2 linked regions of the Homo sapiens genome follow. The protein of the gene in region 1 interacts with the protein of each later gene in a pairwise test. Each region holds a gene or a part of one and is shown on either strand. Other genes may lie near its edges.

Region 1 (3,828 bases):
CAGGAAAAGCAGAGCAAAGGCTAAATAATGAATAGTAGAAAGGAAGCCCATAAAGAGTCCAAGAACGCTGATTTAACTTCTCTACCTATCCACCCACTTTACAAGGTTATTGTAAGATCAAATGAGATCATGACTATAAAAGTCCTTTGTTAAAAATGCGTTCCTCAAATTTAAGGATAATATATAAAATGTCCAGGATATCTCTTAAATTATAAGGTTCAATCTATTCTAGAGCTGGAAAAAATCTTTGGGACAAAATCAAGACCTTAGCAGGATACACAACTTAGCAAATGTCATTCAGGTACTTAGTCTGTGAATAAGATCTGGAATCCTGTGCTACGGACTTTTCTTCAAGTAGTCATTTCACTATACCAAGTACCTATGGATATTACCATACCTTTAAACAATTTTCACATATTTTTAATCATTGATTATTGATTTTTTTAATACATGCCCTGATACCTAGCTTTCATTTATCATTAGATTGTTGTACCGAAAAGGCATAATCAAGTATGTAGGGCCGGGGGAAGGGGTAATAAAAAAGATTTTTGTTTATGTTGGTTGAACAATCATAATCATGAACTAAAATTACCTAATGCATAATACCTTATGCATTACATAAACATAATGAAGGCATGGCTCTCTGGGACCCAATATTTCCAAATATCACTAGGTATATCCACTAATTGACCCAGTCTGGTTAGCAGTTCTGTTGTTCTTTTAATTACAGAAGTAATAACACTCATTGAAACAAACAAATTAAATACAGAAGTATACACAAAAGAGTTTGCATGTCTTACTCCATACCTATCACATACAGACACATAGACAGAATTTTTCCTTTGTAGGTGTGTCATTTATTGTTGTTTGCCATTTTAAAAAATGAGATCAATCATGTTGTATATGTTATCCTAAAACACGCTTTTGCACCTAACAGATACCTCCCTGCGTCATACCTGCAGATCTAGCCCATTCTTAAGAATGTGCCATAATTTATTCTGCCATTTTCTAACAAATGGTCATCCAAGTTCTGCCCAGTTCAATTTTTACAAATATGTTACAAGTTATACTTGTTTATATAACCTAAAGTACCAAGGCTTTTGTTTACTTTTGATAGACTTCTAAAAAGTATCAGCATATTTAAATCAGTTGTAGCAATTCACACTTCCACCAACAATGTGGGAGCCTAAAGCCTTACACTTTGGCCTACACTAGATGTTATCATTTCTTTCATTTCTGCCAATCTATGTAAAAGAAATGATAGATCCATATTTTGTTTGCATTTTCATATCTTTACCTTTAGTCATATTCATTTCTTCTTCTGAGATTTGCCATTTTTCTATTGGGTTATCTCTTTTTTAAAATCAATTTTAAGAACTGTTTAATCTGTTAATGTTTAAAGGGCACAGAAGTCAGGAAAGTTAATCGATTTTGTTCAGCTCAATATCCTCACAACAAAGACCAGTGCCTGACATATAGTATACCCATTTAATATGTACTGATGAATATAGAATATTAAACCTTTTTGTTATATGTTACAAATGTTTTATCTTAGCCTATCAATTTCTTTACATAGTCTCTAGCTATACAATGATTTTGTTGTAGATGTTGATGTTTTTATAAGGAAATAATTATCTATTTTCTTTATCAGTTCAGGGTTTATTCTCTTAAGAAAGCTTCCCTATCCTGAGGTATTAAAATATTTATCAAAATTTCCTTTTAATATTTTAGAGGGTATGTTTTTTAATATGTAAACCTTTAACTGAATTTTATATGGTGGGAGGCAGGGGATCTCTATTTTTTTCTGGATGGAGAGTTGTGTTAGTCCATTCTTGCGTTGCTGTAAAGAAATACCTGACACTGGGTAATTTATAAAGGAAAGAGGTTTAATCAGCTTACGGTTCTGCAGAGTGTACAAGAAACATGGTGCCAGCATCTGCTCAGTTTCTGGTGAGGCCTCAGGAAGCTTTTATTCAAGGCAGAAGGTGAAGCGGAAGCAGGCAGAAGGAGGCACATAACACAGCAAGGGGGGAACAAGAGAGAGTGAGGGACAGGGTGCCACACTTTTAAACAATCAGATCGCACATGAACTCAGAGTGAATACTCACTCATTGTCATGAGGACAGCAACAGGCCATTCATGAGTGATCTGCCCCAGTGACCCAAACACCTCCACTAGGCCCCACCTCCAACACTGTGGATTACATTTCAACATGAGATTTGGAGGGGATAAACGTCCAAACCATATCAAGAGTCAATTATGCCATGCTTTTCTAAATGAACAGAAATATTATTAAGTAACCTTACATATCACACTTCTTGATTGTTTCTATCCCACTGAGCGACTATCTGTTCCTGTGTAATACCATACAGTTGTCATTACAGTCAATTAATACCAAGTATAAATCCCTGGTAGGACAAGGCCCCTGTCTTCTTTGTAAGGGAATGTGAAAACTTCTTTCTTTTTTTATTTTTTTTGAGACAGAGTCTCGCTCTGGTGCCCAGGCTGGAGTGCAGTGGCGTGATCTCGGCTGACTGCAACCTCCGACGCCCTGGTTCAAGTGATTCTCCTGCCTCAGCCTCCCAAGTAGCTGGGATTACAGGCATGTGCCACCACACCCAGCTAATTTTTGTATTTTTAGTTGAGACGGGGTTTCACCATGTTGGCCAGGATGGTCTTGATCTCCTGACCTCGTGATCCACCCGCCTCGGCCTCCCAAAGTGCTGAGATCACAGGCATGAGCCACCGCACCCAGCGTGAAAATTTCTTTTTGTGAAGTTCATTTCTTTTTGTGAGGGAAAACTTTTTTCAGTTCTCAGAATTTTACTCTTCAGCATGAGCTTTCAATTCATTGCATTCTCCCACACAGGAAAAAAAAATCCATTAGGATTCAGAATGGATTAACTGCTCTATTGCTACTGACTTTTATTTCATACTAGAAAATGTCTAATAAAACATCTTTATCAAAGTCTCATTGCCCCTTTTAAAAAGAGCATTTATAAATAGACTTTTGAATTTACTCATTTTGATTTTGAATGGCATTTATCATTATGGGTTATATTTCCTTAATATATGAAATACTTTAGATTTTTTAAAGCCTACTGAGGTCACTTTGGTCTCTGTTCCCACTTATTTCCAAATATAACTAAGGGGTTATTTGGCTACTCTGCTCAGAAAGAAAAATAAGTATCTTTAAATAATCTAACAATATACCATTCTCAGTCACTTTTGGAAACAAAATATCCTCTGTCAATAAATAACAAGAAAGAGCTTGAGTTTTTTTTTCATGACATTATATTTGAAGAGAATCTTTACAACAAATGGAACAAAACAGATTTGTTTTATGATTTTAAAACACTTTTTGTTTTGCTCTACTTATTAATTTCAGTCCCCTAGTTTCTCAGGAAAAAATAAAATCACACAATTGTTTTTTCTTAACATGATGAGGCAAACTATAAGACATACACCTACTGCTGTGCATCCTGTTCTTTTCTCCAGGATATTCCATTTCATTTCTTCTTAGTACCAAAAATATTATGATAGCGGTGCTATAAAGAAAACTGACTGGTCTGGGAGTTCAGTGACAACCACTCCTAGATCTACTTGCACTTGCCACAACCTCGTTGTGTGATCTTGCCATTCTAACTCTCAGATTCAATGAAAGCTGTATGTCTTTTAAAATTTATCAGTTGCATCAGACCATATATATAACTCAGAATAAGTTCAAAGATTTAAGCAGTTTCTAGAAAAAAAATTTTTCTCTCTACTTGAATGAACTATTTATACCAAGTTTACAAAGATGAAAGTTATTTCAGTGAAAATGTATAA
Region 2 (3,828 bases), on another chromosome or scaffold:
ATCTTCCTCCATCCTTTATTGAATTGGAAGTCATTGTTATCCAACTAGACAATAAGCTCTCTGAGGCCAGAGCCTGGCCTATTCTAAATTTTTTTTTTTAAGTCCTGACAGTTGCCAAAAAAAAAAAAAGCCCATTCATTTAGTCATGGTACTCTTTCTCCCATGTCTTTCTCTGTTTCTTTAATTAACTTTTTATTTTGAGGTAATTGTAGATTCACATACAGTTGTAAGAAATAATACAGAGGTCCCTTGTTTACTTTTCCCAGGTTTCCACGATGCTAACATTTTGGTGGGTTTTTAAAAAATTATTTTCAGCCAGGTGCAGTGGCTCACACTTGTAATCCCAGCACTTTGGGAGGCCAAGGCAGGTGGATCACCTGAGGTCAGGAGTTCAAGACCAGCCTGGCCAACATGGCGAAACCCCATCTCTACTAAAAATACAAAAAATTAGCCAGGCATGGTGGCGGGCACCTGTAACCCCAGCTACTTGGGAGGCTGAGGCAGGAGAATTGCTTGAACCCAGGAGGCGGAGGTTGAATGAGCCAAGGTCGCACCACTGCACTCCTGCCTGGGGAGCAAGACTCTGTCTAAAAAAAGAAAAAGTTATTTTCTATTTTGATAATTTTGGTACCAAAAATTTTGTAAAACTATAGTATAATATAACCATCATATGGACATTGATACAGTCCACTGATCTTTTTCAGACTGTCAGTTTCTTTGTGTGGTGTGTGTGTGTGTGTGTGTGTGTGTGTGTATTAAGTTCCATATAATTGTATCAACTGGGTAGATTCATATATCAACCACAACAGCCCAGGTATTGAATAGTTCCAGCACTAACAAGGATCCCTAGTGTTTTCCTTTTATAACTACACATCCCCCCACCCCACACCTCCATCCCTTAACCCCTGGCAACCACTAACAATGTCCTCCATTTCTAAAATCTATCATTTCAGAAAAATGTTATATAAATGTAACCACAGGGTTGGCCATGGTGGCTCAAGCCTGTAATCCCAGCACTTGGGGAGGCTGAGGCGAGTGGATCGCTTGAGGTCAGGAGTTCGAGACCAGCCTGGCCAACATGGTGAAACCCCATCTCTACTAAAAATACAAAAATTAGGTGGGCGTGGTGGTGCATTCCTGTAATCCCAGCTACTTGGGAGGCTAAGGCAAGAGAATCCCTTAACATGGGAGGTGGAGGTTGCAGTGAGCCAAGATCGAGCCACTGCACTCCTGCCTGGGCAACAGAGTGAAACTGTGTCTCAAAAAATAAATACAGAAATAAAAATAAATGTAACCATTATGTAAGCTTTTGGGATTGGCTTTTTGAAGGACATCAGTTTTTAGTTACCACAAATAAAGCTGCTATGAACATTCGTGTAGTTGTTTTTGTATAAAGATGATAAGTTTTTATTTTTCTGGGAGAAATACCCAACTGTGGAATTGCTGGGTCGTATGGTCATTGCATATTTAGTTTTAGAAGAAACTGCCAAACTCTGGTTTTTTTTAGTGGCTGTATCGCTTCTATCCCTTCAGAAATCTGTGTTTGTTTCAGTTTTTCCACATCCTCACCAGTATTCGATGTTGCCAGTATTTTTTTATGTTGCCACTATTTTTTATTTTAGCCTTTCTTTTCCTTTCCTTTCCTTTTCTTTCTTTTTGAGACACAGTTTCACTCTGTCGCCAAGGTTGGAGTGCAGTGGCACAATCACGGCTCACTGCAATCTCTGCCTCCCGGTTCAAGCGATTCTCCTGCCTCAGCCTCCTAAGTAGCCGGGACTCCAGGCACACACCACCACACCCGGCTAATTGTTTTGTATTATTAGTAGAGGTGGGGTTTCACCATGTTGGCCAGGCTGGTCTCAAACTCCTGACCTCGTGATTCGCCCGCCCAGGCCTCCCAAAGTGCTGGGATTACAGGCGTGAACCACCACACCCAACCTTATTTTAGCCATTCTGATAGTTTATACAGTCATACCTCACTGTGGCTTGAAGGTGTGTTTCCTTGGTGGCTAATGAGGTTGAACATCTTTCCATGTGCTTATTTGCCATCTTTATGTACTTTCCGGTGAGATGTCTATTCATTTCTTTTGCCCATCTTCTAACCAGATTATTATTATTGTTATTATTATTTTTAACTGTCTTGTTTTCTATTATCCCTTTTATTTCTTACTCTTTTAGGAAACGCTTATTAGCATGTTCTATGTGTTAGCCATTTGCAATACAGAGATAAAAGAGAAAGAATTGGCCCTCAGAGAACTGGCAGTTTTGGGAAGAGACAAGTGAGCAAGTTTCTGTGTAGGAGGGCACTGACCTCCCAGCAGGAGAATAGTAAAATCTTGCTTCCTGGAGGAGGTGACACCTGATCAGCATTTGAAGGCATGAATATTCGTTACACTTGATATGTATTATACTATCTTTACATTTAGGACATTAATACAGTAAGAGATAGGGCAGTCTAAAAGCCTCTTCAGGGCATCCTTCTTTATAAGTAATTTGTTGTATGAACTTAATTCAAGGTTAGCAAACACGGAACACAAATGTCATGTTTCTTGGGGATTCTAAGGTAGAGATGACAGTATTCCAGATCCCAATGATGTGTGATCCAATGGGAGCTGGGGGTCCATAGCGAGCAGATAGCTGCTGGTTACAGAAACAAACTTAGCCACATGGGAGATTTAGGAGAGTGAGATATTAATTCTCACTAGGAGGTCAAAGAAGGTTTCTTGAAGAAGGGGGTTAGGGCTGGGATTTGAAAAATGAGTAGAGCTTCAACAAGTAGATGTAAAAGGAAACGGATTTGTTATAGACTCATAGGTTCCTGCATGTTACTGATTTCCAGTTCCCCATCTTGCTCTTACCCAGAGTTGCTTCTGTGGAAAGGTCTGCAACCTGGTGTCAGACTCCACATCTTACTAATGGGTCCAGTGAAAGAGGTCGCCAGTGGAGGTTGCATTTCGTTTTAGGATGAGATTTACAATCTATAGGAAGGAAGTCCTTCATCTTACAGATAGATGGCCTGAGGCCTAGAGAGGGTCAAATCCAGTCCAGCCCCATTGCCCCACTGGCCAGCCCAGTGGATGTGCTTTGTGTAGAAAGTTCTCAGGCCAGAGCAAGGAAGTGGTATGGATTTCACCCTATGGCTCTGCTAAAAATAAAAAATTGGCTGGTAAAAATAAAGTGTTGCAAAGTAAGTGGACTGGGGAGTACTTATTTGTTAAAAACACAGCTATTTTTCTCATATGATTTTTTTAATGTCCTTTAAGGGATATGATTTTTGGAGCCTGGCACGGTGACTCACACCTGTAATCCCAGCACTTTGGGAGGCCGAGGTGGGGAAATCACTTGAGGCCAGGAGTTTAAGACCAGCCTGGCCCACATGGTGAAATCCCATCTCTACTAAAAATAACAAAAATTAGCTGAATGTGGTGTCACACGCCTGTGGTCCCAGCTACTTGAGAGTCTGAGGCACTGGAATCGCTTGAACCCGGGAGGCGTAGGTTGCAGTGAGCTGAGGTTGCACCACCACACTCCAGCCTATCTTCAGCTTCAGAGTGAGACTATCTCAGAAAAAGAAAACAAAGGATACTTCATTTGCAGCATTATCCTTAAATGACACAGGAGTCAGGATACGGGATCCCTAAGGAAAGAAATTGTGGCCCATTACAGTGAACGCTGTTTCCATAATCACAACATTGTAAATGCTGTTAATTGGCTTTTTCAGCTTTTAGAATCCAGTTACAGATAAAACAGGGAAAACAAATATGTTTAGAGAACAAGAAAGGACATGTAATCAGTCTCAACAATGCACAAGCAAACTGGACAGAAATT

Evidence for each region.
Region 2: the proteins of DEPDC1B (region 1) and EBPL interact in a two-hybrid assay, tested with the Homo sapiens proteins (one large-scale study listed by BioGRID and IntAct).

The regions. Positions count from the first base shown.
Region 1 is NC_000005.10:60,693,340-60,697,167, forward strand, and holds part of DEPDC1B (DEP domain-containing protein 1B), read right to left. Parts: intron 1-3,828.
Region 2 is NC_000013.11:49,670,889-49,674,716, reverse strand, and holds part of EBPL (emopamil-binding protein-like), read left to right. Parts: intron 1-3,828. UniProt on the Homo sapiens protein: Does not possess sterol isomerase activity and does not bind sigma ligands.